Linked DNA regions of Homo sapiens. The protein of the gene in region 4 interacts with the protein of the main gene of each other region in a biochemical or structural test. Each region holds a gene or a part of one and is shown on either strand. Other genes may lie near its edges.

Region 1 (8,277 bases), on a different chromosome or scaffold from region 4:
CATCCTCCTTTTCTAATATGTTTATTTAAGGCTGTCATTTTCCTCTAAATACTGCTTTGGCTGCATCTCAGTTTTTGATACATAGTTATTTCCATCGTTGTTCTTTTATTTAACAAATACTAAGTGCCTCCTATGTACCAGATAGTGGGCTAGATACTAAGAGTTCAGAGTAAGCAAAACACAGTACTAGCACTTAATGAGCTCATAATCTAGTTGCAGAAATAGATATGTCAACAGATTATTATGTAACCATATAATAAGTGTTATGTTTGAGGTATGTAAATACAAGGGGCTGTCACAGAACAAACTCTGCCTGCTGGAGTATAGAAAGGTTCCATGGGGTAGATGGGATGATATTCATCCATCCATCCACTCATCCATCCATCCATCCTTATAGTCATTTAACAAGCATTTGTTGTGCATCTATTTTATGTAAGTCTTGTGCTAGGTGCTGGAACTATGGCTACGTCTTGAAGGATGTGAAAAAAATAGGCTAATAGAACAAGGTGGGGGTGGGATTTTAAAGCAGAAGTATCAACCTATGCAAAGGCACAGAGGCTCAGGGGCATGGAAATGCATGATGAAGCTGGCATGATGGGGAGTAGCTAGTTCACCAAGGCTGTGTGTGGTGTGGAAAGGTGTTTAGATTTTGGGGTTTTGGGTTGGAAATGAGAAGCCATGGAACTTAAAGAAAATAAACACGTTTTTTCATTTGATATGTATTCTGGCAGTAGAATAAGTGTGAGGCAGAGACCAGTTAAGAGGCTTTTGGACTAGGCTCAAAGCAAGGACAGTAAATGTGGAGAGATGGATATAGATCCAAGAGATAACTAGGAGTTGGAATCAGTAGAATGGAAGGATCCTGGGGAGTTAAAAAAAAAAAAAAAGGCATAAAGTATCACTTCCAAGTTTCTGGCTTGCGTGACTGGATGAATGGATGGTGGCGCCATTGACTAGGGTAACGAATACCGAAAGGGCCACAGGCTTTGGCAGAGAAGTTACAAGTTTGGTTTTAGATCAGGCTGAGCTTGCCAAAGAAAGTGCTATCCAAGAGCATCTGGTCTAAGGAAGCAGGAATAAACAAAGGAGCATTTCTGGAAGTGGAGAGAGGATCAGTGCCACCGCTAGCCAATATGGTACCTTTGTACAAGTTATTAAAAAAAAAAGCATCTCTCCAGGGCAGACCAATTAGAAAAGGGCAACCTTTCTTCACAGTAGACTCAGCCACTTGGCTTGGCAGAAAGCCCAGGATGGATTTTAGCCCCATTCACACCCTTGGCTGGGTACCTATGTATAGTGCACAGATTATACAACCATACACAGGAGCCTTGGGACTTACTTGGGTTTAGGGATATGCCTAAGAGCTCAGCCCATTGTTCAACAATAGAAAAAGGAGGCAGGAAACTGAATTTGGCTGGGGGTGTTGGTCAGGGAAGGAATCTAGTAATTGCTGAAGGATTTGGTGGTCAGGCCTCTTTCCAGTGGATTACATTGAATCTTGTCCTCACCCGTGAAAGGGGTTACTATGAGCCCTCCCTATCATCTAAGGGCATTATGAGGACTCAAGGAGACCATGTATATGAAGTCTTTCCGGCATCTCTGTACCCCCAATTTCTAGTACCAGACATGGCACACAGGTTTAACCATTAAATGGTAAAAGGAATGGTGAAGGTCAAATGAAGAGGTGCATAGTGGTAAACTGAAGAATGTATACTTGGTAAGTGTTGTGACTAGTGAGCAAATATGAAGATAGTACAGGCCCAGGGAGGGACATCTTCAGGGGACCAGTGGTAAGAGATAATGGCAGATAAAGAGGGTGTTGGTCAGAGGTGTCTGCTGTGGCATGGGGGTCTCAGAGCTTGGTCTCTGGAGTATGGGTAAAGGGAAGCAAGCTGAGAATTGAAGCACCAAAGAGCAGCAGAGGCGCCTGAGACAAGAAATCTGGCAGGTAGTCAGCCCCTTAGCTGATGTTACGGTTTGGGAAGAGTGAGGCAAAAAGAAGAAAGTCATCCAGGGAGGAAGAAATGGCTGTTGGGAAGGGTTCTGTCATAGTAGAAGAGATTTGGGAAAAGTGAAGAGGTCTTATGCATGATGATGTGGAATCCCAGTGGCAAGAAGCAGCAGGATGATGGCATCCTGAAGTCTACTCTCTCTTCTCTTTGCCCTACTCAGTAAGAATGGAGGAAGACTGAGTGGGAGAACTGGAGGGTTTCTTGAGGGAACATAGTAGGTGATATGTTATACTCAGGACAAAGGATAGCCGGAAGAGATGAGCTCTAGATTGGTTTCCGCGTAGGTCCTTGAGAGTTTGATAGCTTGCTTGATCCATTGATGAACAAAATATCTGTTGTGGCCCAACTGGATCAGGCAGTTGAGATCTCAAGGTTTGGTACAGTGTCTGAGGAATTTAGGCAGCTGCAAGACAGGTGCTTCTAGGCCGAGTGCGGTGGTTCATGCCTGTAATCCCAGCACTTTGGGAGGCCAAGGCAGGCGGATCACCTGAGGTCAGGAGTTACTGGCCAACATGGTGAAACCCCGTCTCTACTAAAGATTTAAAAAATAGCCATGTGTAGTGGTGGGCACCTGTAATCTCTACTCGGAGGCTGAGGTAGGAGAATCGCTTGAACCTGGGAGGCAGAAGCTGCATTGAACTGAGATTGCACCACTGCACTGCAGCCTGGGCGACAGAGTGAGACTCTGTCTCAAAACAGACAAACAAAAACAAAAAACAGGTGCCTCTAGCCACTTAGGTCCCAACTAAAGCAAAAAGGGAAAAAGCATCTTCCTGAGAGACAGACCACTCCAAGCCTGAATTATCCAGGGTAGTAGCCAAGAGAAGCAGAGCTAGAATCCAGTCCTACAGCCTTAGTGAAGACCCAGGAAGCACTGGTAACAGAAGTCCAGCACTCTGTATTTCATAAGGATCTTTTATACATAGATCTGACTTAATCATCATAGTGATCCTGTATGGTGGGTATCTGCATTTCACAGATGACAAAATAGAGGTGTAGAAGTTTCTAGAAGAAGCTGGAGCTATTTACCTAAGGGATATGAATTGATTCTTGTGAGTTGTTACGTCTTTAGTTGTCTGTAGCCTTCGACTGGAGGCAGCTCATGCTAATCTGGTCAGCCTACATGTAACTGGATATTCTAGCCTTTAAAGGGTGTTTGTCCTCTGTTAGAGGCTAGGACTCCACCTCAGGTTAGATTGAAGGTGCTGCAGGAGTATTCATCTCCCTCCCCAGGACCCTGAGACTTGGAGGCATGGACAGGACCTGGGCTGTAGGTCCTGACCATAGTGTATGTGTGTTAGTGTATGTGTGTGTGCACATAGGCTGTGTGTGTGCACATAGGCTGTGTGTGTCTGGGAGGGCTGTGGAATCAGTATATCCACTCTGGGGGTACCCATCAAGCACACATATACACATTTGTGTAAGTCTCTGTAAGTGTTCAGGGGAAGAAGGATCAAAAAAGTGTTTCTTTTTTTTTTTTTTTGAGACAGGGGCTCCCTCTGTCACCCAGACTGGAGTGCAGTGGCATGTTCTCGGCTCACTGCAGCCTCCGCCTCCTGGATTCAAGCAATTCTTCTGCCTCAGCCTCCCAAGTAGCTGGGACTACAGGCGTGTGCCACCACGCCTGGATAATTTTTGGTTTTTTGTTTGTTTTTTGAGACAGAGTCTTGCCCTGTTGCCCAGGCTGGAATGCAGTGGTGCGATCTTGGCTCACTGCAACTTCTGCCTCCCAGGTTCAAGCAATTCTCCTGCCTCAGCCTCCCGAGTAGCTGGGATTACAGGCATGTACCACCACGCCCAACTAATTTTTGTATTTTTAGTGGAGACGGGGTTTCACCATGTTGGCCAGGCTGGTCTCGAACTCCTGACCTCAAGTGATTCACCTGCCTCGGCCTCCCAAAGTGCTGGGATTACAGGCGTGAGCTACCATGCCCAGCCGTGTTTCTTGTTTCTCCCAACCCTTCCACTTCTTCCTATTTTCATGTTTTCTCTCTCATTTCTCTTTTTCCTCTCCTTTCCTTGTGAGTTTAGATGGCATTGTGATTAAGTTCTCTGGCACAGGACTTGTCACTCAGCTTTGTCATGTCAGAGGACAGGGTCCCTCTGTGGCTGAGACTTTGTAACTTCAGTCAGTTGCTGAATAATCCAGAGTACTTCTGCTGACAGTGGCCTGAGCGGGTGGGGGGGAAGTGACGGGCAGAATTTGGTGTAGCCACACCTGAGACTGAGCCTCCCCTCAGCCCCGTGTCTGGCACCATCATGGTGGGTGGGACCAGAGGGTACATGTGAACACAGACAAAGATTTGTTTTGGGGGTGAAGGTAGAGCTTGGTCAGGGGAAGCCGAAGAAAGTCATATATCAGGAACAGCCCAGGAGTTAGCCTGTCTGTCCCCTTTCCACAGCAACAGGTGAGAAGAAGGAATGCTGGTCGTGGGAGTCCTACCTAGAGGAGCAGAAGGCCATTACTGCTCCAGTCAGCCTCTTCCAGGACGTGAGTTGGACAATTTCCCCGTAGGAACAGCTTGTCTTCCTAGCCTAGGGACACACCACCAACCTCAGGCCTTCTGGCGTTTTCTGTGTCAGGCATGCCTCAGTGGACTGGCAGAATGGAAAGGGAGAGACTGTTTAGGGGCCCAGAGTGGAAAAGGGCCCCCCATAAGGGGCTGGCAGGGTGGGAAGAAACAGAGAGGTGGAAGCTAGGCTCACTCATCACTGGGCCTGCAGACTTTTGAATTCTGGTGACTTCTACTCAATTCAGCATTGATCTTTCCATGACTTTGGTGAGAGGGAGCCCTTGAGTCCAGCCCTGACTCACCCACATTTTTCAAGGGACCTGGGAGATATTCTCTCTCTCTCTCTCTAGATCCCTGTAGTAACGATCCCCAAATAAGTTGCCCCTTTGGAAATACCAGGCGGGTGGGGCCTAAAGGCAGCTCCTTCACCCCAAGCCCACTAGGCAAGGATAAGGCTGGATGGAAGCTGGGTCCTCTCCACTCTGTGCGTTGACAGTCCCAGGCAGTCACTCACAACAAGAATGGCTTCAAACTGGGCATGAAGTTGGAAGGCATTGACCCTCAACACCCGTCCATGTACTTCATCCTCACCGTGGCTGAGGTGAGCTGGGGCTTGGTACCACCTTTCTGATGATGTCTCTCAGTGCAGATTGATGGATCTTGCTGGGGACATAGAAGGAAACACCTCCCTCCCCTCAGAGCACACACAATCTAGTAGTGGATGAAGCTGGAATACATAGAAAGCTTAAAACAACAAAAACCAGATGGAGTTCATGGGACAGTCCTATTATTGGATGAATGTATACTGTCCACTCTGGGGGAGCTTGAGGAGATCCCGAGGGCCAGGGATGTTGGCATGAGTCAAACAAGGTCCTTGTCCTCTAGGAGCTCACAGTTGTCTGGGGAATCAGCCAAATAAACATGTCAGTGACATGCCACAGGGGTGGCAGCAGACTTGAGCTGGGAGGCACAGTTGGGTCAGTTCTGTCTGAGGAGCAGCAAAAGCATAGAGGAAGGGCCTCCTTTGCAGAGTCTTGAGAGATAAGTTGTGAATAAGGAGGGAGCTCCAGGCAGAAGGAGCAAAGTGGGCAAAAGCCCTGGGGCATGGAACAGACTGCTACCTTCAAGGAATTGCCACTAGCTCAGCAAGACTGGAAGCAGAGTGCGAGTGGGGAGCAGTGAGAGAAGGTAGCAGAGGGAGCGGTCATCAGGAGCCCTCAGCAGTCCTGAGCCTTGGTGGCTGCCCTCAGAATTCTGTCCAGGGCTCAAAAGGGCAGGAAGCTGTCATAGGGTCCACCTCCCTTGCATCCAGAACTCAGGGCTCATGAGTACATGAACTGTCCTCACTGTAGAATAGGACAGGGTGGGGTACAATTGGGAGGAAAGAAAGGTGGGGTTGGGGAACCTGCTAGCATTAGAGCCCCTGAGACCACCAGACTGGGCCAGGAGAGGTGAGGCAGATGGGGAGTGGGGCATCTCCTGACATTGGAGTTCCTGATTCCCCTCATGGGGCCAGGTATGTGGCTATCGCCTACGCCTGCACTTTGATGGGTATTCTGAGTGCCATGACTTCTGGGTCAATGCCAACTCCCCTGACATTCACCCTGCTGGCTGGTTCGAGAAGACGGGCCACAAGCTGCAGCCTCCCAAAGGTAAGGCCTAGCTGGGTTGGTCACAGTGAGGCAGTGAGTCCTCAGACCCTTCGCTTCTTCCCCTTGGGTCCCCGGCTTCCAGCTCTTTTGTTTTCTGACCCTGTACCCTGTTCCAAAGCCAGCCTCTCTTCATCGCATCCTGATGACTCTGCGCTGGGGCCAAGTTGACCAGAAGCCCTAGAACTTCCGCTTTGCACTTGCCCTTTGAGTGTCTACTCAAGTCGTGTCCTGCTTCAGTAGTGGGGAATCCCTGGGCAAGTTCTTGAGGGTTGGGGGGAGGTCCTCAGGCATGCCTGATTCTGCTGCTTCACTGTGGGGTGCCCTTGCTGTGGCCCAGCCTCTGCACGGCGCTCTGTTCATGCCCCTCGAGGGGCCTAGGTTACAAGGAGGAGGAGTTCAGCTGGAGCCAGTACCTGCGCAGCACAAGAGCTCAGGCTGCCCCCAAGCACCTGTTTGTGAGCCAGAGCCACGTGAGTGCCCCTGAGTGAGAGTGGATGTCACTCCCATGTGCCAGAGTTCACTGCAGCTGGCCCAGGGTATCTGACTCATCAGAAGGGAGCTCATGTGCTGGTTCTCTCAGCTTTGTTCTGATCTCTCATATCAGATGGGAGGGGTACAGCTGGGCAGGGTCCAGGGCCAGAGATGGGAAGCTGGTTATAGGTTTTTCCCGACTTCCCTCCCTCCTTTGCTACTGCAGATACCCTGTCCTCACATCCCCTTGGAGCCCCTGGCCCACTACCCTAGTCTGAGCACTGAGATGTCATTGCTCATATATTCTTGCTTTGGCTTGCTCTGCAGTTCTTTGGTGTAAGGTCAATGCCTCTATTCTGGGAGCTTCTTTTTCTTTCCTTTTGCCCAACATTGAGACTCTTCCATTTATTTCCAACAATTCATCCCTTGTCCTTTCCTCTGTTCAGGGCAGCTGGCAGCTTATCCAGCAGTTAAAGTATCTCATAATCCCAACCAAAAGGCCTAAGAGATACAGGGAGCCTCCATTAAAAATATCATACTGGACCAGGTGTGGCGGCTCATGCCTGTAATCCCAGCACTTTGGGAGGCTGAGGCGGGTGGATCACCTGAGGTCAGGAGTTCAAGACTAGCCTGGGCAACATGGTGAAACCCCCATCTCTACTAAAAATATAAAAAATTAGCTGGGCGTGGTGGTGGGTGTCTGTAATCCCAGTTACTCAGGATGCTGAGGCAGGAGAATCGCTTGAACCTGGGGGGCGGAAGTTGCAGTGAGCCAAGATCACGCCATTGCACTCCGGTCTCAGCAACAAGAACGAAACTCCGTCTCAAAAAAAAGAAGTATGTATCAGTCTTACTGGCTGGGTGCGGTGGCTCACACCTGTAATTCCAGTACTTTGGGAGGCTGAGGCGGGAGGATCACTTGAGCCCAGGAGTTTGAGACCAGCGTAGGCAACATAGTGAGACCCCATCTGTACAAAAAATGTCATTAAATTATTAGCTGGGCATGGTGCATGTGCCTGTAGTCCTAGATACCACAGTAGCTAGCTGAGCTGGGAGGATTGTTTGAGCCCAGGAATTCAAGGCTACAGCAAGCTATGATTGTACCACTGTACCCCAGCCTGGGCGACAGAGTGAGACCCTGTGTCTAAAGAAAAAAAACCATATTGAATGTCTAGAGTTTCCCTGGGCCCAGGACTCCACCATGCTCTTCAGGCAGAGACAGTTACTCCCCTACCCCAGTCCAGCCCCAGAGTTCATACTTGCAAGTTCCCAGGTGACAGGTGGGGTCCTGCCTGCTGTTGTGACAACGAATGCCGACTTTTAATTCAAACTATTTAAATACTGGCCCCGCCGTTGACTAGCATTGTGTTCTGGGCCAAGTGATTTAACTTCTTAAATGGGAATAGGGTTGTTGTAAAGGTCCAAGGAGGTGATGTCTTTTGAAGCTTACATGGCAGGTACTCAGTTTATACTGGTTCCCTGTCTGCCTCTATGCCATAGATGTCCGCTGTTTCTTCCCAGCCACCCCACTGTTGCCACAACTGCCTCAGGACAAGCTGGGAAGGGCTTGTCTGGGTAGGGAAGATTTATACTTGGTTCACCAGGTTCTTTGGGCGAACGCATAGCCTC
Region 2 (8,105 bases), on a different chromosome or scaffold from region 4:
ATAGGACTTGGGGATATAGCAGTGAACAAAACAGTAGCCTCAGCCTCATCATGTTTATGATACCCTGGGGAATACTGATGATAGTAATAGCTACTATGTGTTGAGTGTTAAGTCTGTGCTAAATACTTTACTTTAGATTATCTGATTTGATCCTCATCACTCTAAGAAGTAGGCATTATTAATATCCCCATTTTACAGAAGAGGAAACAGGCAAAGTGCAAAGTGAGGTCAGTAACTTGCCCAGCTAGAAAGCAGCAGAGTCATGTTGGGAAACACAGAGTCAAAGCCTACTTTCCTAACCTCTAAAGTCTACACAAGACAGAGGGTAAAAAGAGGCTGGCATTCTTATGGTTTTAGGTCTAACATTTAAGTCTTTAATCCATCTTGAATTAATTTTTGTATAAGGTGTAAGGAAGGGATCCAGTTTCGGCTTTCTACATATGGCTAGCCAGTTTTCCCAGCACCGTTTATTAAATAGGGAATCCTTTCCCCATTGCTTGTTTTTGTCAGGTTTGTCAAAGATCAGATAGTTGTAGATACGCGGCATTATTTCTGAGGGCTCTGTTCTGTTCCATTGGTCTATAATGAGAACACATGGACACAGGAAGGGGAACATCACACACTGGGGACTGTTGTGGGCGGGGGGGAGGGGGGAGGGATAGCATTAGGAGATATACCTAATGCTAAATGACGAGTTAATGGGTGCAGCACACCAACATGGCACATGTATACATATGTAACAAACCTGCACGTTGTGCACATGTACCCTAGAATTTAAAGTATAATAATAATAAAATTTAAAAAAAAAAGAGGCTGGAGTTCACAAGGAGATGAGGGTGGAGACTGAGAAAAGCTTTGCCACCTTGTGAAAGCTGCAAGCTCCTTTTACAGTTATTTATTAGCAGGGATTTCATTTCAAAGCAATTCGGGTACTTAAAATCTATCTCTTGTTTTCACTTTTTTAAAAAGCAGTTTTTCAGGCAGGGCGCAGTGGCTCATGCCTGTAATCCCAGCACTTTGGGAGGCGGAGGCGGGTGGATCGCCCGAGCTCAGGAGTTGGAGACCACCCTGGGCAACATGGTGAAACCCCCATCTCTACTAAAATACAAAAAATTAGCTGGGCATGGTGGAACGCGCCTGTAGTCTCAGCTACTCTGGAGGCTGAGGCATGAGAACTGCTTCCACCTCCACCCTGGAAGTGGAGGTTGCAGTGAGCCAAGATCACGCCACTGCACTCCAGCTTGGGCTACAGAGTGAGATTCTGTCTCAAAAAAAAAAAAAAGTTTTTTTTTTTTTGAGTTTTTCTTGAGTCCTGCGGCAGTTATGCAGAGACACCCAGCCAGGGTGCAGCCAGGTCACGGGGTGCTCTATGTGTCCAGACCCCATACCCAGTTATGGGTGCTGAATCTTTCATTTGAAACATGGATGCAGCTTCTTCAGTCTATCACACCCCTCCATGGCTCCACATTAATCCCCTAGCACTAATGGTGTTCATCACATCTTCTGACAACTAATGCAGTTTGTGCTGGAAAAAAAATTATTTTATAACTCCAAGGACATTAATAATTAACTTCTAGTCCACAAAACTAGTAATATCAGTTTGCTGAAATAAAGTCACCAGTGAGTGTTTCATTCTTCTTTAAAGGGTGTCTTCTATTATTATTATTCTACAGTGCAATTTAGTCATCAAAGGTTTACTCAGCCTCATGTTTATAAATTATATAGGGCAAGGATTTAAGTCTTCTGGCCCTACCTGTTCTGAAGACAGGGAGGGCCATAACCTTGTTGTCATACAGGGCACCTGCCTTGAGAGATGATTTGTGAACTTGAAGTTTCTTGCTTCTTTTAGAAATCTGGGGTGAATATACAGATTTCCCTTTGTGACGCAATCAGAGGAATAACCAGCTAGTTGCCTGCCACGAAGAGAGACTGGCTTTTATCCTTCAGAAGGCCGGTTGGAAACAAGTTCATCTTTTTCAATCGAGTTTCAGAATCTTGTCTTGATTATGTGACATAATAATGGTGGCTTTCCAATTCTTCTGTGCAATATTGTTTTTTCATTGTGGTGGTTACAGATAGTTTTTTTTTTGAGGGGGAAGGGCTACTGCCTTAGAGAAATAAAAGTAAAGCAGAAATAATCTAGTGTGCTGCCTACCTAAGTTGGAAATTCCAAGTCCTGACCCACGTTTACATCCCAAGGGAGATGGCTGCCAATCAAGGGCTCATCCACTGTTCATCCAGGGTGAGGGACTTTGGCTTTCCTGAAAAAGTGGTGAGTTTCCCATGCAGCCCTCAAATCACAGCATCCCAAGATGTTGCCATCACAATTAAAGGAGTAGGGGAGGAAGTGGCAGGTGTCTTCCTTTTTTGGTTCCTCCGTTTGAAAAGGGCTTAAAGTAAAAATCAGAGTTAAAGTAACTGGCCTGATCCTATATAGGGGGGTGGGGTTGAACTCCTCGAGGTCATAGGAAGGAGGACCTCGGTTTCCCTGCCAAAACACTCTCATCCCCCAGCTGCAACCCTGGCAGCCCTTGGCCAGAGCCAAGCTAGAGGATGGAAGTCACACTCAAGGGCGTCCGACTCTGGATCTTAGAGGGATTCCTGGCGTTGGCAGGGAGGGCCGAGTCAATTCATTCGGGGCGAGATGCATTCCAAGAATGCTTCTGTGGTCGGCGAGGAGTGGAAAAATCAGGTATCACAAATATTCTGAGGAAACCTAATAGGTACCAGAATCGCAGGGTTCAAACAGGTGACAACGACAAAGGACATTGGCAACTAGAACTCAAAAAGGGGTGAGCGCACTCTCTGCCCGGTGCCCGAGCTTCCACCACTTTCCCCAGTGTCCCCTCTCTTCTCTTTCCTAGGTTGACACCAGCCTAAGCGCCAGCGTTCGCCGGTGAGGGGGCTCCGTGGAGAGGGGGGCGGAGTCCCGCGCCGAACGCCGGAATCCAAAGTAAACACCTCGCCAAACCTACGTTTAGAAAGTGATACCGAACACCACATTCACGTTTTAAAAAAAAATACTGTTTGCTAAGAAGATGAGAGCAAAACATTTCCCAGCTGGAAAATTACTGATCACAAACCAAGGGGAGAGTGGGGGTGGGGGAGGCAGCGTTATAAGATTGAAGTAAAGATCGCCGTTTCCTATTCCCTTCCCGGTGGGCAAGGACGCCTGCGGCGGGCTCGGTGTGCACTTTTTGAGAGCTAGGATCCCACCGCATCGCTCCACTTCCTGGCACATGGTCACTTCCCAGGGAAGTCCCTTTAGGGGGGCCTGACCTACCCGGAGCCTGAGCCGAAGGAACGAGTTGTCCTTTGACCTTTACTGGCCATTTCACCTCTTTATGACTCAATTTCTCATCCATAAAGTGGAAAGGAGAGTGCGTGGCTTGAAAAGTCATCAGTGAGTGTTTAATTCTTCTTTAATGGGTGTCTTCTATTATTATTATTATTCTACAGTGCAATTTAGTCATCAAATATTACAGGCAGTGGCTCACGCCTGTAATCCCAGCACTTCGGGAGGCCGAGGCAGGCTGATCACTTGAGGTCAGGTGTTCGAGACCTGCCTGGCCAACATGGTGAAACCCCGTCTCCACGAAAAATACAAAAATTAGCCGGCGTCGTGGCGCACGCCTGTAATCCCCGCTACTCGGGAGGCTGACGCAGGAGAATCGCTTGGACGCAGGAGGCGGAGGTTGCACTGAGCTGAGATCGTGCCACTGCATTCCAGCTTGGGCGACACAGCGAGACTCTGTCTCACAAAAAAAAAAAAAAGAAAGAAAAAAAAAGGAAAGGGCTTCGAGATGGCTGGTTGAAAACTGTCTCCGCGCCTCACAGTCCCTCTTCTCTCCCTTATGCCTCTGAGTAAATCTTGAGCCCTTTCACTCCCTTTCTCGCTATTTAAAGTATCAAAACCATAACTCCCCATTCGTGCCTCTTTCCGCCTGTTCCCGGCGGAACACTCCTCTGGCCTTCTCTTGAGGCTCCCAGTTCACGCTGCACAGTGCTGGGCACTGCCTCCTCTCCACACCCCTAGCGCCCCCCACCCCTCAGCAGAAGGGCCCGCGAGGAACCGTGCGAGGTCAGGCCGAGCGCCGGCACCGCCACCGGCACTGGCGCTGAGCGACGAGAGCGGACTCCTGCGAGCGCAGAGAGGGAGGGGGAGATGGAGGGCTGGATGAGTCACGCGGATAATCGCGCTCTTCTCCAGCGCGCAGACAGCGCGGCAAGCGCGTATGCTAGCAGGGGTGCGGACGCGTGACCGTGCCGCCCGCTGACCCCACCAGTCTTCGCGGGCTTCGAACCCAGGGAGCCGACAATGGCGGTGAGTACGGCCCTGGTCGCGCAGCGACCGAACCTGCGCCCGGTTCCTCGCGCCCCGCGCTGGGGCGGACGCCGCCGCCGCCGCCGACACCACTGCCGCCGGCGTCAGCTCGGCTCCAGCCCGCCAGCTGCCTGGCTGGCGTCACGGCCCGGCCCAGCCCCGCCCGCGCCCCTCCTTCCCCTCCCCCGCCCCCACGTGCGCCGAGTTTGTTGATTTAGCTGCCATAGCAACGATGGAAGGGAGCCTCGGGGGGGGCGGAGAGAAGAAAGGGAGGGGCGGGGCATGGGAGAAGGCGGAGGAAAAGGCTGTAGCGAAGGAAGTTATAAGTAAGGAACGCGCGCCGGCGGCCGGCAGTTTCCCGACCAGAGAGAACGAACGTGTCTGCGGGCGCGCGGGGAGCAGAGGCGGTGGCGGGCGGCGGCGGCACCGGGAGCCGCCGAGTGACCCTCCCCCGCCCCTCTGGCCCCCCACCCTCCCACCCGCCCGTGGCCCGCGCCCATGGCCGCGCGCGCTCCACACAACTCACCGGAGTCCGCGCCTTGCGCCGCCGACCAGTTCGCAGCTCCGCGCCACGGCAGCCAGTCTCACCTGGCGGCACCGCCCGCCCACCGCCCCGGCCACAGCCCCTGCGCCCACGGCAGCACTCGAGGCGACCGCGACAGTGGTGGGGGACGCTGCTGAGTGGAAGAGAGCGCAGCCCGGCCACCGGACCTACTTACTCGCCTTGCTGATTGTCTATTTTTGCGTTTACAACTTTTCTAAGAACTTTTGTATACAAAGGAACTTTTTAAAAAAGACGCTTCCAAGTTATATTTAATCCAAAGAAGAAGGATCTCGGCCAATTTGGGGTTTTGGGTTTTGGCTTCGTTTCTTCTCTTCGTTGACTTTGGGGTTCAGGTGCCCCAGCTGCTTCGGGCTGCCGAGGACCTTCTGGGCCCCCACATTAATGAGGTAGGTGAGGCGCGCGGCGCTGGGAGCAGGGAGGGGTGAGGACCGGTGGGACGCGCCGGAACGACGGCCGAAAGCCGCCCCTGACTCTCCTGTCTCCGCTCCCTGCCTTGCTCGCAGGCAGCCACCTGGCGAGTCTGACATGGCTGTCAGCGACGCGCTGCTCCCATCTTTCTCCACGTTCGCGTCTGGCCCGGCGGGAAGGGAGAAGACACTGCGTCAAGCAGGTGCCCCGAATAACGTGAGTATCGCTCCGGGCCGCCGGGAACGCCCGGTGGGTTTTCGTGGGTGTGGTGGGGGCGGGCGGAGCCTTGGGGTCACCAAGAGCCACTGAACGAGGGTAAGGAGCGGCCACCGCGCGGACTCCGCAACCTTCCCGGGATAGCTTCCGTGTCCTTGGCTCAGCTGTGTATGCCCGTGGTGCGAGCACTGCGGAGCCGCCTGGGGCGCAAGCCGGGTCTTCACCAGTCCCCGGGCGCGCTGTCGGTAGGGCGGGCGCTCTCGGGCCACCGGGCGGGAGGTGGCCGCGTCCCCAGACACTGGCTGGGCCAGAGTGAGTTTAGCGCGTAGGCGGCCCCGTGGCGAGAGCGCACCGAGAGAGCCTCGGTGTGCCAATTCCGGGGACGTCCACGGGACCTGGAGGGGGAGGGACCAGCCGCGGCGCTCGCTCACACGCAATTGGGCAGACAGGACATAACACCCGCAATACAGACGCATCACCTCTTCTTCGACCCGGGAGTGGGCCGAGATTGCAGCGCTGGCGCCCTGGGTTCCCGGGTGCTTCCTGCCTGACCAGTCCCCATGTCTGGGCGGTGCAGTCGCGCGTGGCCCGCCAGCACGTCAGTATGTCGGGTGGCAACAGGGGACCACCACTGACAGGTCTCTCCCGCCCTGTCCCCGCAGCGCTGGCGGGAGGAGCTCTCCCACATGAAGCGACTTCCCCCAGTGCTTCCCGGCCGCCCCTATGACCTGGCGGCGGCGACCGTGGCCACAGACCTGGAGAGCGGCGGAGCCGGTGCGGCTTGCGGCGGTAGCAACCTGGCGCCCCTACCTCGGAGAGAGACCGAGGAGTTCAACGATCTCCTGGACCTGGACTTTATTCTCTCCAATTCGCTGACCCATCCTCCGGAGTCAGTGGCCGCCACCGTGTCCTCGTCAGCGTCAGCCTCCTCTTCGTCGTCGCCGTCGAGCAGCGGCCCTGCCAGCGCGCCCTCCACCTGCAGCTTCACCTATCCGATCCGGGCCGGGAACGACCCGGGCGTGGCGCCGGGCGGCACGGGCGGAGGCCTCCTCTATGGCAGGGAGTCCGCTCCCCCTCCGACGGCTCCCTTCAACCTGGCGGACATCAACGACGTGAGCCCCTCGGGCGGCTTCGTGGCCGAGCTCCTGCGGCCAGAATTGGACCCGGTGTACATTCCGCCGCAGCAGCCGCAGCCGCCAGGTGGCGGGCTGATGGGCAAGTTCGTGCTGAAGGCGTCGCTGAGCGCCCCTGGCAGCGAGTACGGCAGCCCGTCGGTCATCAGCGTCAGCAAAGGCAGCCCTGACGGCAGCCACCCGGTGGTGGTGGCGCCCTACAACGGCGGGCCGCCGCGCACGTGCCCCAAGATCAAGCAGGAGGCGGTCTCTTCGTGCACCCACTTGGGCGCTGGACCCCCTCTCAGCAATGGCCACCGGCCGGCTGCACACGACTTCCCCCTGGGGCGGCAGCTCCCCAGCAGGACTACCCCGACCCTGGGTCTTGAGGAAGTGCTGAGCAGCAGGGACTGTCACCCTGCCCTGCCGCTTCCTCCCGGCTTCCATCCCCACCCGGGGCCCAATTACCCATCCTTCCTGCCCGATCAGATGCAGCCGCAAGTCCCGCCGCTCCATTACCAAGGTCAGTCCCGGGGATTTGTAGCTCGGGCTGGGGAGCCCTGTGTGTGCTGGCCCCACTTCGGGACACACGGGATGATGCTCACCCCACCTTCTTCACCCCTAGAGCTCATGCCACCCGGTTCCTGCATGCCAGAGGAGCCCAAGCCAAAGAGGGGAAGACGATCGTGGCCCCGGAAAAGGACCGCCACCCACACTTGTGATTACGCGGGCTGCGGCAAAACCTACACAAAGAGTTCCCATCTCAAGGCACACCTGCGAACCCACACAGGTAGGGGGACAAACTGCAGAAGGGAGGGGGGTTAGCTTCCAGCCCCATAGGCTACCAGTGGACACTCCTCAGTGCCTCCTTGACTTCCCAGGTTAGCTTCCAGCCCCATAGGCTACCAGTGGACACTCCTCAGTGCCTCCTTGGCTTCCCAGGGCAGTCTATCGCCTTGATCTCCGGGATCACTGGAGAGAACAGCAAACCGGCGCCTACTTTTCTGCCCAGGAGCCTTTTGCTTGATGGATGGTATCTGTGTTTGAATGTGCAATTTTGTTAGGCTTTTAAAAGGCAGGAGATTCCCCGCGGTCTGTGGGCCTCTCCTAGCTTGGCATTATAATCAAGAAATTATACTTTGCTATGCAAAAGCATGATGGCTTTTTTAAAAAAATCGTTTTTTAATGTTCCCTTCCCAGGTTCACCCTCCCTTTTTGTTATTTTGAATTCTGGTCGTAACAATTCGGTCTTACTTTTTTATTTTTTATTTTTTGTTCGTTTTGATTTACATTTTTATTTTTTTTCCCCCACAAGCAGAAGGTTTTATTTTAAATTCCAAGAATATGATGGTCAAAATTGCTGGGAAGATTCTGATTTAGGGTTGTCACTGCAGAGCATTTCCATGTCAATGTAAGTAGGTACCCAAAGTCGTTTAGGTGCAGCATTCAGTAACGTAAAGGTAAAGAAAAAAAAAGTAGC
Region 3 (8,277 bases), on a different chromosome or scaffold from region 4:
TTTTTTCTTTTTTGAGACAGGATCCCACTCTGTCACGCAGGCTGGAACATAGTGGCGCACTCTTGGTTCACTGCAACCTCTGCCCCTCAGGGTCAAGTGATCCTCCCAGCTCAGTCTCCGAGTAGCTAGGACTACAGGCACACGCCACCACACCTAGCTAATTTTTATATTTTTTGTAGAGACAGGGTTTCATCATGTTGCCCAGGCTAGTCTTGAAATCTTGGCCTCAGGTGACCCACCTGCCTCAGCCTCCCAAAGTGCTGGGATTACAGGTGTGAGCCACGACGCCCGGCCTCAGAGGCCTTTCTGAATATAGAATTTTTTAGAATTCTGGTAAAAGACATAATATAAAATTTAATGCTTTAACCATTTGAATGTATGGTTCAGTGGCATTAAGTACATTCACATTGTGGTACAAACTATCACCACTGTCTATCTCCACACCTGTTACATCATCCCAAACTGATATTCTGTACCCATTAAGTAACAACTTCCCATCCCCTGGCAATCACCATTCTACTTTCTGTCTTTGTGAATTCACCTACTCTAGGTACCTCTTATAAGTGGAATCATATAGTATTTGTCTTTTTGTGTCTGGCTTATTTCACTTAGTATGATGTCTTCAAGATTCATCCATGTTATAGCATGTGACAGGATATCTTTTTCTTTTTTTGTTTGAGACAGGGTCTCACTCTGTCACCAGGCTAGAGTGCAGTGGCGTGATCTTGGCTCACTGCAACCTCTGCCTTCGGGTTCAAGCAATTCTACCACCCTGGCCTCCCTGAGTAGCTGGGACTACAGGTGCGAGCCACTACACCCGGCTAATTTGGGTATTTTTTGGTAGAGACAGGGTTTCACCATGTTGGCCAGGCTGGTCTCCAACTCCTGGCCTTAAGTGACCCGCCTGCATCGGCCTCCCGAAGTGCTGGGATTGCAGACATGAGTCACCACGCCTGGCCTAGGATTTCTTCTTTTAAGGCTGAATAATGGTCCAGTGTATGTATATACTATATTTTGTTTATCCATTCATCTGTGGATGGACATACGGGTTGCTTATACCTTCTGGCTATTCTGAATAATGCTGCTATGAACATGGATGTATAAATATCTCTTCAAGATGCTGCTTTCAGTTCTTTCGAATATACACCCAGAAGTAGAATTGCTGGATCAAATGATATTTCTATTTTCAAGTTTCTGAGGAACCCACCATACTGTTTACTGTAGTGGCTGCACCATTTTACATTACCACCAACAATGCACAAGGGTTTTAATCGCTCCACATCCTCACCAGCACTTACTAATCTCCATACCCTCACCAACACCTATTATTTTGTTTTTTGTTTTGTTTTGACAATGAGAGACCCCCTAATGAGTGTGAGGTGTATGTTATTATGGTTTTGGTTTGTGTTTCCCTGATTACTAGTGACGTTGAGCATCTTTTCATGTGCTTCTTGCCCATTTATATATTTTCTTTGGAGAAATGTCTTTTTTTTTTTTTTTAAGAGACAGGGTCTCTCTGTTACCCAGTCTGAAGTACAGTGGTACAATCCTGTCTCACTACAGTCTCAACCTTCTAGACTCAAGCAGTTCTCCTGCCTCAGCTGCTTCAGCCTGCTGAGACTATAGGTGCAGACCATGACACCCAGCCAATTTTTTTTTTCTTTTTCATTTTGTTGGGACAGGGTCTCACTGTGTTTTCCAGTCTGGTCTTAGACTCCTGGGCTTAAGCACTCCTTCTGTCTCGGCCTCTCAAAGTTCTGGGGTTGCAGGCATGAGCCACAGTGTCCAGCCCCATGTCTTTTTTTTAATCAGGTTTGGTTTTTTTTGTTGAGTTGTTTGTATTTTCTGGATATGTCAGATACGTGATTTGCAAATGTTTATTCCCATTCTGTGACTTGTCTTTTCACTCTGTTGATTGCAAGCTTTGATGCACAGAAGTTTTAAATTTTGATGTGATCCAGTTTATCTATTTTTATTTTTGTCTCTGAATCATAGAGTTTTGAACACATGGCATGTATGCCTCTACACAGGTTTTCAGGTTTGTTTGTTTTTGAGATGGAGTCTCGTTCTGTTGCCCAGGCTGGAGTGCAATGGCACAATCTCAGCTCACTGTAACCTCCACCTCCTGGATTCAAGTGATTCTCCCACCTCAGCCTCCTGAATAGCTGGGATTATGGGCACCTGCCATCATGCCCAGCTAATTTTTGTATTTTTGTAGAGATAAGGTTTCACCATGTTGGCCATGGCAAGTCTCGAACTCCTGACCTCAGGAGATCCGCCTGCCTCGGCCTCCCAAAGTGCTGGGATTACAGGCATAAGTCGCCTTGCCTGGCCAGGTCTTCAGGTTTTATCCTGTCCTTTCCTCTTTTTCCATTTCCTTGCAATACCTTCCCATTTCTGCCTTTGCTCAACTTTGCTCCGCCTGGTGAACTTTAAAGCTCCAGTTAGAAAGCTCTCTGGAGGGGTATTTCAGCAGAAATTGTTTTCATAGGTGTAGTCTCCTACAACTATAATAGAAGTAGTCACACTGTGTCACTTATTATACTAAGTCCCTAATTCTGTCACCCTCAATTATGAACTTTTATGGAACAGGAGTTTTCTCTATTGCCAAGTACCCAATATCTGGCCCATAGTAGGCAATCACATCTGTTAATGGAATAAATAAGTGTGTCATTTTTATTCCTCAACTTTTTAACTTAGCACTGACTTTCTTTTTCTTTTTCTTTTTTTTTTTTTTAAATGGAGTTTCCCTCTTGTTGCCCAGGCTGGAGTGCAGTGGGGCAATCTCGGCTCACTGCAACCTTTGCTTCCTGGGTTCAAGCGATTCTCCTGCCTCAGCCTCCCGAGTAGCTGGGATTACAGGCATGCGCCCCCATGCCCAGCTAATTTTGTATTTTTAGTAGAGATGGGGTTTCTCCATGTTGGTCAGGCTGGCCTTGAACTCCTGACCTCAGGTGATCCATCCGCCTCGGCCTCCCAAAGTGCTGGGATCATAGGTGTGAGCCACCGCACCCGGCCTCTTTTATTTATTTATTTTTTTGACGGAGTTTCGCTCTTGTCACCCAGGCTGGAGTGCAGTGTGCAATTTCGGCTCACTGCAATCTCCGCCTCCCAGGTTAAAGCAGTTCTTCTGCCTCAGCCTCCCCAGTAGCTGGGATTACAGGCACCCAGTAGCTGGGATTACAGGAGCCCACCACCACTCCCGACTAATTGTGTGTGTGTGTGTGTGTGTGTGTGTGTGTGTGTGTGTGTGTGTGTGTGTGTGTGTTTGAGATGGAGTCTGGCTCTCTCACCCATGCTGGAGTACAGTGGCACGATCTCGGCTCACCACAACCTCTGCCTCCCGGGTTCAAGTGATTCTCCTGCCTCAGCCTCCAAGTAACTGAGATTTCAGGTGCATGTTAGCATGCCTGGCTAATTTTTGTGTTTTTAGTAGAGACGGGTTTTCACCATGTTGACTAGGCTGGTCTGGAACTCCTGATCTCATGATCCAGCCGCCTCAGCCTCCCAAAGTGCTGGGATTACAGACGTGAGCCTCAGCCTCCCAAAGTGCTGGGATTACAGGCGTGAGCCTCAGCCTCCCAAAGTGCTGGGATTACAGGCATGAGCCTGTAATTAGACTGCACCTGGCCTAATTTTTGTATTTTTAGTAGAGACGGAGTTTCCCCATATTGCCCAGGCTGGTCACAAACTCCTGATCTCAGGTGATCTGCTGGCCTCACCTCCCAAAGTGCTGGGATTAGAGGCGTGAGCCACTGTGCCTGGGTCAGCACTGATTTTCGTGTCTAAACTCAAAAAAAAAAAAAAAAAAAACCTCTGCTCCCACTATTTTTTCCTTTCTTCTATATAGAGAAGAGAACACTCAGTTTTACAAACCAAAAGAACCCTTTGGAATCTTTGTCACCCTCGTTTCAGTCATTGTTTGCTCAGAGAGCTTTCTTCAGTGCAGCAGCAATAAAGCCGTATATTCAAGATTTACAGCCAGCCTTTGCAATTCCCTTCGCCGACTGCTCAGGATTTAAGGAATGGTTCTTTCATTCTTTAGGTCTCTGTATTCCTTTAGTAAATGCTAAAGCATTTACTAAATGCAAAAGCTAATTATTTAAATTTAGTAAAAGTAGCATAACTTTTGAAAAAGGGGGGCTAGGGATCCCCCTAGGCTAGAAGAGTTTGATTTATTGTTACTTTTGGGTTGATGGCAGCCTTTTTGGTGAGGTCTGTGCTGGAAAGCTAACTTGTACCATTAGACCTCACTAAATGCTTTCCTAAGTGTGAGGAGGTGATACTTAAAAAGACTGGAACAATTTTATACCAAAACTGGGACATGGATGTGCCTTCTGCAGTTTGAATATAAAAGAAAGTCATTTTTGTTTTCTTTCCAAGGCCATGGAAATAGCATCTCAAAGGACCAAGGAAGAACGGTCTAGCCAAGATCATGTGGATGAAGAGGTAGGATTTATTATCTATTCACAGCCTTTGGAAACACTTGTGTTTTGAGGGTTTTTTTTTTTATGTTGCTAGAGCATAAACTTGATTTAAATAGATAAGCAGCTTTTTCAAATGATGGTAATATTTCCTTAAGATATATTATAGTAAATGATTTAAGTGAGCCAAGTTGGATAGTTTACATTTCACTGTATTGGTCCACTCAGCAACCTGTTAGCCCATTGTCCTAGATGGAGAAAATTTTTAAAGAGCCTGTTAGGATATAGGCGTCAAGAAGGAAAAGCCTGTTTTTAATTTGCAAATGTGAGTTTTTAAATGACTTAAATATTGATTCTAGAAATGTTATAGATTTTAAATATTATGCTTTGATAAAAACGAGTCAGGGTGTTTTTTTGTGAAGGAGCCATAGTAGGCTTTTAAAAAAAATTCTCACAACTCTTAATGGTTGACTATGAGGTGCCCTGTGTTTGTCGGCAGCTCTCCACCTTTTTCACTGTAGCAGCTGGGTATGTTTCGTAAGGCATAGCCAGGCAGCGCTTGCCAACTGTAATTCCGCCCCTTTCCCTCCTGCTCAGAAAAGCTTTTTGGAACAAAAATGAAGGAGAAGTGTTATTCTAAGGATAATCTTGAATCAGCTCTAATGTTTTTTTTCCCTTCCTTAAAATAAATCATATGCAAAATTTAGTGTTCTATCATTAGTAGTGTTACTTTTGGGACACCACATCACAGATGGGATACCAGTGTGTGCAGACAGCTTAGCCAAGCATCAGTGTTAGGGATGAATGAATATATAGATTCCCCTGTAACCTGATGGAGGAGTATGCTGTGTGAATGTGAGAAGTGTATGAATAACAGTTTTGATTTTGCTTTTCCTCTCTGTTAGGTGTTTAAGCGAGCATATATTCCTAGAACCTTGAATGAAGTGAAAAATTATGAGAGGGATATGGACATAATTATGAAATTGAAGGAAGAGGACATGGCCATGAATGCCCAACAAGATAATGTAAGTAGCTTGGTTTGTATATAGCAAGCAGCTCTTCAAAAGTAGTAGGGGACTGTCCCAAACCTATCTGGGCCTTTTAAGTTCCCCTAATCTTGAATATTGGCTTCTGAGCTAGTGAAATGACTAACTCTATCTGTGTTAACTTGTGTGCACATTGAACGCAAAGGGAATTATTTGGAATTTATGAGAGGAGGTAACACATTTGAATGAATCCAACAAGCTGTAATTGTAGAAACAAGATTCAGATAGAAGTCTAGGCTATTAATGGTTATTATATTAGGTCCATTAACATATATTTCTTTAACATACATCATTCAGGAACAATTTCTTTTTGGTGAAGGGTCAGATAGTAAATATTTTAGGCTTTGCAAGCCAAGAAACAAAATTGAGGTGATTACGTAGGTCCTTATGTAACAAGAGAGAAAAAAATTCACCCTCAATTTTTATTCGTGAAATTAGAAATACTTTAATAATAGTTGAATACACTTTTGTGTAATACAAGTATACTAAAGAAGAGTGGAATTATTTGATGTGGGGCAGATAATATTTCACTTAATTGGGGCTCAAAGTTTGTGTTTGCTATCTTCAAATTGATTGCAAATGTTTATCTGTAAAAACTACCAGGTAGGCTGGGCGCAGTGGCTCACACCTGTAATCCCAGCCCTTTGGGAGGCTAAGGTGGGCGGATCACTTGAGGTCAGGAGTTCGAGACCAACCTGGCCAACATGGTGAAACCCTGTCTCTACTAAAAATACAAAAATTAGCCAGGCATGGTGGCGTGCTCCTGTAATCCAAGCTACTGGGGAGGCTGAGGCACGAGAATCACTTGAACCCGGGAGGCGGAGGCTGCGGTGAGCTGAGATTGCGCCATTGGACTTTAGCCTAGGCTACAGAGCGGAACTCTGTCTCAAAAAAAAAAAAGGCCCAGTACGGAGGCTCACACCTGTAATCTCAGCACTTTGGGAGGCCGAGGTGGGTGGATCACCTGAAGTCAGGAGTTCGAGACCAGCCTGGCCAACATGGTGAAACCTCGTCTCTACTAAAAATATAAAAATTAGCTGGGCATCGTGGCAGCTGTAATCCCTGCTACTCAGGAGGCTGAGGCAGGAGAATCTCCTGAACCCCAGGTGGTGGAGGTTGCAGTGAGCCAAGATCGCGCCACTGCACTCCAGCCTAGGCCACAAAGCAAGACTCCGTCTCAAAAAAAAAAAAAAACAACTACCAGGTGGCTGGTTGGATTTGGCCAGTAGATCTGGTAGACAGAAATAATATCAATATTATAAACTTCCTGTGTTACAGTGAGATTAATTTTAGATACCTTTTTATAATCATAGGAGACATTATTTAACCCACATTGTTCTTAATAGTGCAATATGCATATTTCATTGTCTAGTTTTATGTTGATCCTTATTTTTTTTTTTTCATTTTGGTTATAAGATTCTATACCAGACTGTTACAGGATTGAAGAAAGATTTGTCAGGAGTTCAGAAGGTATGAAGAACATGTGTTACTGTTTGTTTATGTGAAAACAGTTTTAAAGGATATAAACTCTAGTCATACTGTTTTTTATTATTATTTAATATTATTAGAACTAAATGTTATTTTATATTGTTAAAATGTTATAATTGCTTTCAAAGTCTGTGGACATCTTCAGAAATGCCATTTTTGTGTTCTTTCTAAACACAGCACTGAAATTTGGAAATTAATTTATTTTTCTTTCTGTCTCTGAATTGTTCAGTGATTGCAGGTGAGGTATTTATCTTTTTGTATCCTGGTCGTCATTTGTGGAGCTCTTAATGATAGCCATTGTGCTTCTTGATGGTTTTACAACCAGCTTAGGAGAACTTTGGAATGTAGTCTCCTACCAGGGTATTACTTGTTAAAGAACAATCTCATGAGTTCAGCAAGTCCTGCTGTGCTGGATTCCTGTGATGTTCTTTTTTCTTAAAACAATCTTGTTTTGTTTTACATTTTAGAAGGGCAGGGATTAAGTAATTCTAACTTAGGCAGTCATAAAAGCAGTCTTTATTTTTTTAAATCTTCCTAATTGAAGACTTAAATAAAGGATCACAGTTTGCTTTCTTAAAATCATGTCTTTTCTGTGGAAAGAATTGAATTAGGGGAATTCTGGTATTTTGCATTTCTGAGTTATAATAACAGGTGTCATAAGGAAGTTATGCTTTGGATTCCAGAGCATGAAGATTTTATTGCAGCAAGCTAGAAAATCTTGTTGTACAATTGACTTCTAAAGATCTGTTTTTTTCTTATAAAAGGGAAACCTCACTCTTAAAAACTGCTAGGAAGCGCTGTATTAGACAACTGCTGAATTTCAGGAAGTAATGAAAATTTCTCTTCTTCACATATTGTTTTCCCTCCCAATTGGATTAGTTTATTGCTAGAAATGTGGTTCACAGGAAAACAGCTGTGAAGTTATCCATATAAATCTTCATTTTCTACCTCTATGTATATTTTGCCTCTTTCCCAATCCCAACTAAATGCTCCTGATTAGCTGAAAGAAGGAGAACAGCTCTGTTGTTGATCTAGGTCACGCAGTAAAGCCCTGGTTCCTTCATTTGAGTATGTTCTGGAGCCTTACTTGGAGTGGCTACTTTCATGTTTCCCTCCTGATGTTCATTCTGGTGTTTTGATGTTTCAGTACAGGATGTTAGTTTTTAACATATATTTGCGAGCCTAAAATCTGAATTCTGGCATTAACACATTTAACAACAACACATAACTTGGTTTGTGTGTTGTTTAGAATAACATGGTTCTTTAATAATTTCAAGGTCCCTGCACTCCTAGAAAATCAAGTGGAGGAAAGGACTTGT
Region 4 (6,959 bases):
TATCTGCAAGGTAACAGTCATTTTCTGAAATACTTTTGGAGCAGAAACCCCTTTTCTGTTTTTCCTTTTTTTTTCAGCTTCAAGAGGAGGAATGGAATTTCTTCTTCTTCCTCTTATTTTTCAACTAGAGGCTTCTTATTGAACAATCCCAAATCAGTCAGATGCTGAATTGAAACTAAATGAAACTACAGCATAAAGTCCTTCGATAGCTGTTACCTAGTTCTAGAGATGACTGCTGAAACAATTTCACATTTAATATAAACTAGCAGTCTGAATGATTCCAAACATTTAAACCCAAAGGCAGATATTGGTAACCATCCCATTAGTATAGCTGGGATGGTTACTAATTTGGTCTAACATAATTTTGTCTTAATTTTCACATTACCTCATTCTACAACATTTGGGCCCAAATCAATCATCTTAACCCATGAAAGTTGCCCAATCTTTCACTTTCAAGGTTAGCTTCTTAAGCTTCCCTCAGTCTGTATTAAATTTTTAATCCTGTATTCCCCTTTCCCACAAGGAAGAAGAATATTAATATTGTGATTTGACCCATGCGTGTTAGAGGGTGAAGCCTTGCCTGAAAGATCTAGCATGTGAATGTGTCTGTGCAGGTGGAAAAGCTGATCCAACATCAGTTTGGACCCAGTCATCTCACTCGTTTCTGTTTCCTTCCTTCCATGGAAGGAAGTGTGATAAAATCAAGGATTGGGCAACTGAGGGAGGTAAAATAAAGCAGGAGATCTCATGGCCTGCTTCAGTTTGAGGCCTAACTGTGCCTCGTGTAGCCCTGCCAAACTTCCTAGAATTCACTTCTTTGGGGTCCTGGGCAGAAGGCCCAGCTAATAATGAGGTACTATGTTGACTCCTTTTGTCACTGGCTTTTGTGCTTTACAAATGTTGACTGGCTGGGCACGGTGACTCATGCCTGTAATCCCAGCACTTTGGGAGGCCAAGGCAGGCAGATCACTTGAGGTCAGGAGTTCAAGACCAGCCTCGCCAACATGGTGAAACCCCGTCTTTACTAAAAATACAAAAATGAGCTGAGTGTGGTGGTAAGCGCCTGTAATCCCAGCTACTTGGGAGGCTGAGGCAGGAGAGTCGCTTGAATCCCGGAGGTGGAGGCTGCAGTGAGCCAAGATTGCACCACTGCACTCCAGCCTGGGTGACAGAGTGAGACTTCATCTCAGATTAAAAAAAAAACGGAAATGTTGACTGTGATTAGGGCAGGAATAAGGGATTGCCAGGGTTCTCAGCTCAGACTCATCCTCAGACTGCCAAAATCTACCACAACGTCTAACAAAATTTCTATATTTTCTTTAAATCATGAATTGAAGTTTCCTTTCAGCTATTTGCCCTGATCATCTCATTTGCATTCCATACCCTTACCATGTATGTATTCAATCCGACACTTTCTGTTGGTGTGGCTAATCCTTCTGGATTTATGGGTGTATGTGGAATCATATCAAATCCTCCGCTCTTACTAGAATGCTCTGAAAATGATAAATGGCTAATAATATTTTAAAACAACTTAAAATGTAAAGTTCACTTAGTAATTTAAATATACAGGTAGACACATTATAAGAAAACCATTATTGCTTTTCTAACCTAGATGACCAAAGGAAGACAATGACAGATGATTGTATATTTTGTTTAATACTTGCATTGTTTCTATAGCGCAATTATAGCAATCTTTAAATTTACTTTCATTACAAATATTTGTCAAGTTTTGTTTCAGAAACATTTTTCCTACTCTCTTGCATCATGCACCCAGACACACTACAAAAAACTCATTCATAACACAGTAAGGGCAAACATTATTCATGTAAACATCTTTCATTAATTTCCCATAATTTAAAAAAATCATAGAATTATAGATATTGAATAAGGCTCATAGTTTTAGTTCAAATTCCACAAGAGACCAAAGATGCTCGTTAACCGTGATGGGGTTAACTTTTGGTTGCAATAAATGCTGAAAGCATACCCCTGGCTTCTACTTCTTCAACATACCTCACAACCTAATAAATGTATTTCAGGATAAAGAGAGAACATAGAACACCCAGGAGGAAACTTTTGAAGAAGGGAGCTCAGAATCATGGACATAATTTTCCTATGTGATAAGCAGGTATTACGTAGTCCCTGTAGCTTCCCAATACATGAATCAAGGTTAATTATCATAAACCAAAATGTAACCAAGTAGATATGTTGATACATTGGCATGTGTGTTCGTATTGCTACTATACACAGTGAAAATTTATCCTAATATGTATCATTTCATTATATCCAGGACCAAAGTGGAAAAAAAACCCCACTCAAGTTGAATATCATCATAAAGGAGTTTTTGTTTGTTTGTTTTTTCAATAACATAAGAGTCAGGAGAGTTGGGAGGTATGTCCTAGGGATGTGATTGACTCTTGACATTTAACAACTTTGAACAACTGTGTGTAAAGTCACAGACAGAGGAAGCAAGGATTTTTGTTATCGGAGGACGTCTCTCTCTCTGGTTGGAAGTTTGGTGCTTGGGTGCATAGTCTTCCAGAGCTGAGACAGGAAATGTACTGTGCTGAGAAATGGGCCCCTTGCCAGATGCTCCCCTCTCCTTCCTCTCTGCGAGGCAGAAGTCAGAAGGTAGAGATTGCTGGCAAAACTGTGAAGTCCCACCCTGGGGTCTCAACCCCAACTCCACTGAGGGCAGCCTCCCTGACGTGTGTGACTAGGCAGTAAGGGTGGCGGTTGATGGCGGCCGGGAAACCGAGTTTCGAGGTTCACATGGCCAAGTCTGGCTTCTGATTCTGCTGCCCTGCAAAGAAATTGTGCTCCAGATAACTGCACCGGTGTCTCTAATGCCTCTGATTCACTCTCAGGCCCCTCAAAGGCCTGCAGTGATATCACTAAAAGGTGAACACACCTCCATTAGCACCTAACTTCCACCAGGAAGCGGCTGAGGCACTGGGGAAGCCTACGAGCTCTCTCCACGTCAGGTGCAACAACGCCGAGGAAGTTGCTGAGAGTCAGAGTTATTGTAGGCTTTTGATTTTTAAAAATCAAAATTGATCTGCATTACATCTCAATAGACTCAGATAATTCTCACCAAAATTTTTGTAATGTGTTTAAGTAGCACTGGAATAATTCAACTTCATTTAAATATATTCATTCTATCATGAAAATATTTCATACAAACATCTATTTACATACAAACACATTAAAATTTGTGAAAAGGGTTCCCACCCCTGTGGTTGTATGGCTTGAAATAGTTTCATTGCTTTGAATATGTACGCACACATTTGGCAAAAGAAAACTATTACAATTTAGTATTTTTAAAATTAAAAAAAGTGACAACGAGTTTCCAAATTCCTGAAGGGAAAGATAAAAGAAAAACAATAATAATCTATCAAGGTACCCCAAGTAGATGTAAATTTGATATACTTTGTGAACCTTTGATCTGTGGCAAATAAACATTACAACTGTCAGTCTTGCAACATAGTTTTGCTTGTTTTTCTAAAACAAAAGATATCTGGATTCTAAGTCACTACTCTTAAGACAGAAGCTTGAGGCAACTGTTTTAAAACAAAGCAAAACAGAAAATGATACCTCTACCTTCTTGGAAGATTTTAAATGCATGTTGCAGTGAGTGATTTAAATTTTTATATATTAAATGAAATTTACGAAAAGTGCCACATACTGTCTCCTGGAGAAGACAACCCTTTAATTCACTGTTCACAATTAATGCAATTTTAATAGTTATATTTAAATGTTAAAAATTGTTACATTTGGCCTCATTGGCCTTTCTGGGTGGGTCGTTGGTGATAAGGAAATAGTTTTTCGAGTGTGAAGAACCCCCATAGGGCAAATAGGTTTAACTACAGTCCTAGACAGGTTCAAAGAGCTCTTGGAAAACTAATTTCCTTCTTAGTGTCTCAGGTAGATCAAGGATGAAGCAAGTTAAAATAAGAATAGGTACTACAAGACTCAAGAACTCCTCACTGCTTTCTTTTTGATCCCATCATTCCTTTGTGTCGGAAATTCAGTCTTTCCAGTTGTTTTTGTTAGTCCATTCAAATGTCCATTTGGGGACATGCTCCTACAGGTTAGTTCCTATTCCTAACTCTAACACAAGATAATATTTCATCACAGAAAAGATGCTAAGGGAAGATCTGGTCATGCAGGAGTTGGACTGAGACAGCTCTGAGTGAATCTCCTTGAGATTACAGTGTCGCACACACACATAGGCTCCCGCTGTTTTTCAGGAGAGCATAAAGTTATTTCTTTATTCCCCACCACATGGAATCTTCCACGTCTGCTGTGATTCTGATGCGATGAAATGACCAGATGCAGCGGCTTCCTGACACATTTCCTTCCCCAGCAGATGTAAAGTAGAAAAATACATTCTGAGTATTCTTTTCCACTTGCGTTTAGGTTCAAACGGGAAACAAACCCTTCCGTCCTCAGCTGTTAATTCCTTATAGAACCTCCACTCCCTTGACTTCTTTCCCTACCTACAGAACTCAGTGAATCTCAAGCCTTACTCCGATTCCAACCTGCCACAGAGCCTTACATTTGGGAGTATGTGTGTGTGTGAGGGGAGGGGTGGGGAAGACAGAGCCAGAGACATAAGCAAACAGAGAGGCACACACAGAGGAAAAGCCAGATGAGCAGAGTCCCAAAGACATGCACAGAGCCAGAGAGACTCAAGAAAGGTCAGTGCAGGGGACTTGGAACAGGGAACAGGAGAGGGCAGCTGGGGCTGCTGTTACCCAGGATGCCCAGGCGTTCTCACATATGCAGAGAGAAGAGGAAAGAGAGCCGGCCAGAGAAAGAAGAGCTGGAAGACACAGAGAGTATGAAGAGAGTTGGGAGGAAGACATGGTGAGGCTCAGCGTGGATGCATTGCTTCCTCTGATTTGCGTGGAGGTCACAGACACACTGCTGAGTTTTAAGCTCAGAGTGTTACCATTCAATATCTCATCTGAAGAACTGATTAGCAGACTAATCACTACTTACAACTCTTCAATTCCTTCTATCCAATGTTGAAAAAAATTCCATTTGAATGGGATAATTAGAGTAGCCCCCACTTAGGACGTAAATTGTACCCCACTGCAGCCAGGACCAGAATGCTATCACTCTCAGGAATGAAATCATTCAGAGCATAGCTGCATCGGGGGCATGACCAGCACTATCCTCTCCCTGACCGTATTCCCTGACCTGGCTGCACAACCCACTTGATCGAGGTTAATGCAAGCCATCTTTCTCCTGAAGACAGTCACTCCCTTTGGGCACATTTAAATTAAAGCACCTATCAGAATGCAAGTCCAGAGGCCCTGGCCCATCCGTCACAGTGTATAGAACGGTCTCTTTCTACAGAGTAAGAGTGACCCTATCCTGGTGCCTTTAAATCTAAAAACTATTCAGTTCCTTTGGTGGGCAATCTTCCTGGAAGCACTGACAACTTCCTCTCATGGGTGAACCATTGGCTTAAGCTTTCAAGCAGGGATCCAACTGGATCTCCCTGAAACCACTGCCACCTAGCTGCAAAGCATGCAACCGGGTGCTCTAGGAAGCCTGGTGTTGCAAAGAAGGGAAGGGCAACTCTGTCAATGTGCCCAAGGGCCACCTGAAATGAAAGTCATGAGCAGCCTGGGATTAAGCACTTTTGTTGTAGTCTTCATAAAGCAATGTGCAACTGACAAGAAATAGCAAACTTCCTTCTGCCTATGTCCTCACTCTTCTTCCACTGAAGCCTTCTCTCATCAGCTGGAGCTCACTATCTGCTACAGCTTGGAAGGCCTTCGCTTTCCAGACCAAACTGACTCAGGTGACAGGAATCACAGCTGACAGCTACAGATCAGCACAACAGCTGCTCTCCAGTCCTTCCAGCCGCTGCATCGAGGTGTCTAAAAGAGACAAAGCTATGGCATGTGGTGAGGGTGCTTATAAAAAACAAAACTCTCAGGATTCATTCAGAGCAATCCCAGTGATGTTACAGATCTAATTAGCTAAACTAAAAAAACAGGGGTTTTCTCCTTATTTCTGCAGTTGTGATTACACATGGCTGGCAAAATGGCTGAAATGCTATTGATAGTGTTGCTTTTAAACTATACAGGTGTTCAGTCTTAGTTTACAATGTTTTGAAGCAGGTAAGTGCTTTGAAATTACAATGATGAAGAGTTTTAGCATCAAGGTTTGATTTGTACCTAGTAATCAGTGTGTCTGCCTTAGTAGTACTGACTAAAAAAATTTTTTTTTGAATTCTGTTAGAATTCAAATTTGCTGTTTGACTTTTGAATTCAATGCACTGTGCCACAAGCCTGACCGCGCTATGTTATGTACATTTAATGTGTACTCAAGGAGGAAAAAATTACTAGCACTACTGAAAATATTGCAAAATTGCCATAGTTACCGCTTAGAGATACTAGTTTTCTTCTCTTCTTTCTTAAAGTATATATTACAACTCTTCCATAACTTAATGCAAACAAAGTAAATTCATTTCTTCTCACATCTTAAAGCAAAGATATCTTTGTTTACATGCGAGAATAATATTCTATAATAATACCCTGGCCCTATGAGCCAGTACTTTATATTAGGACATAATAATAAAATGATGATATAGAAAGAACCAGAGAGACCTACACACTGCTATTGATGCAAAAATCCATTTGGAAGTTTTCTCTTGTAAAGGGTATCTAAGAAAGAGAATAGGGCTGAGGGGTGAAATGACTTTAGAAGTGGGCTCCTATTTACTAAGAAAAAAACCAAAGCCATTCTATTGCAAGATACAGATCAAAGGTTAAAAGGCAAATTATACTACATTTAGAGAATAAAGATGTAGTAATTGTCAACCCTTAATACGGCACATATGCAAGTGTGCTAACACAATTTGCACTGGCCATAGGAAAAAAGCACTATGGAAAAACCACTGACTAAAAATGACTGAAAAACCCCGTTTCCCTGTTTCAGTCTAA

The links.
Region 1: the proteins of SETD7 (region 4) and L3MBTL1 form a complex in vitro, tested with the Homo sapiens proteins (one study listed by BioGRID).
Region 2: of the proteins of SETD7 (region 4) and KLF4, one has a biochemical effect on the other in vitro, tested with the Homo sapiens proteins (one study listed by BioGRID).
Region 3: the proteins of SETD7 (region 4) and RIOK1 form a complex in vitro, tested with the Homo sapiens proteins (one study listed by BioGRID).

What each region holds. Positions count from the first base shown.
Region 1 is NC_000020.11:43,524,243-43,532,519, forward strand, and holds part of L3MBTL1 (lethal(3)malignant brain tumor-like protein 1), read left to right. Parts: intron 1-4,414; coding exon 4,415-4,503; intron 4,504-4,960; exon of another isoform or gene 4,961-5,021; coding exon 5,022-5,126; intron 5,127-6,041; coding exon 6,042-6,177; intron 6,178-6,555; coding exon 6,556-6,647; intron 6,648-8,277. UniProt on the Homo sapiens protein: Polycomb group (PcG) protein that specifically recognizes and binds mono- and dimethyllysine residues on target proteins, thereby acting as a 'reader' of a network of post-translational modifications.
Region 2 is NC_000009.12:107,486,338-107,494,442, reverse strand, and holds the start of KLF4 (Krueppel-like factor 4), read left to right. Parts: upstream 1-4,673; 5' UTR 4,674-5,270; coding exon 5,271-5,275; intron 5,276-5,392; coding exon 5,393-5,513; intron 5,514-6,175; coding exon 6,176-7,148; coding exon of another isoform or gene 7,149-7,250; coding exon 7,251-7,415; intron 7,416-8,105. UniProt on the Homo sapiens protein: Transcription factor; can act both as activator and as repressor. Binds the 5'-CACCC-3' core sequence. Binds to the promoter region of its own gene and can activate its own transcription.
Region 3 is NC_000006.12:7,406,003-7,414,279, forward strand, and holds part of RIOK1 (serine/threonine-protein kinase RIO1), read left to right. Parts: intron 1-4,383; coding exon 4,384-4,449; intron 4,450-5,329; coding exon 5,330-5,449; intron 5,450-6,886; coding exon 6,887-6,940; intron 6,941-8,235; coding exon 8,236-8,277. UniProt on the Homo sapiens protein: Involved in the final steps of cytoplasmic maturation of the 40S ribosomal subunit. Involved in processing of 18S-E pre-rRNA to the mature 18S rRNA. Required for the recycling of NOB1 and PNO1 from the late 40S precursor.
Region 4 is NC_000004.12:139,504,401-139,511,359, forward strand, and holds the end of SETD7 (histone-lysine N-methyltransferase SETD7), read right to left. Parts: 3' UTR 1,638-6,959; downstream 1-1,637. UniProt on the Homo sapiens protein: Histone methyltransferase that specifically monomethylates 'Lys-4' of histone H3. H3 'Lys-4' methylation represents a specific tag for epigenetic transcriptional activation.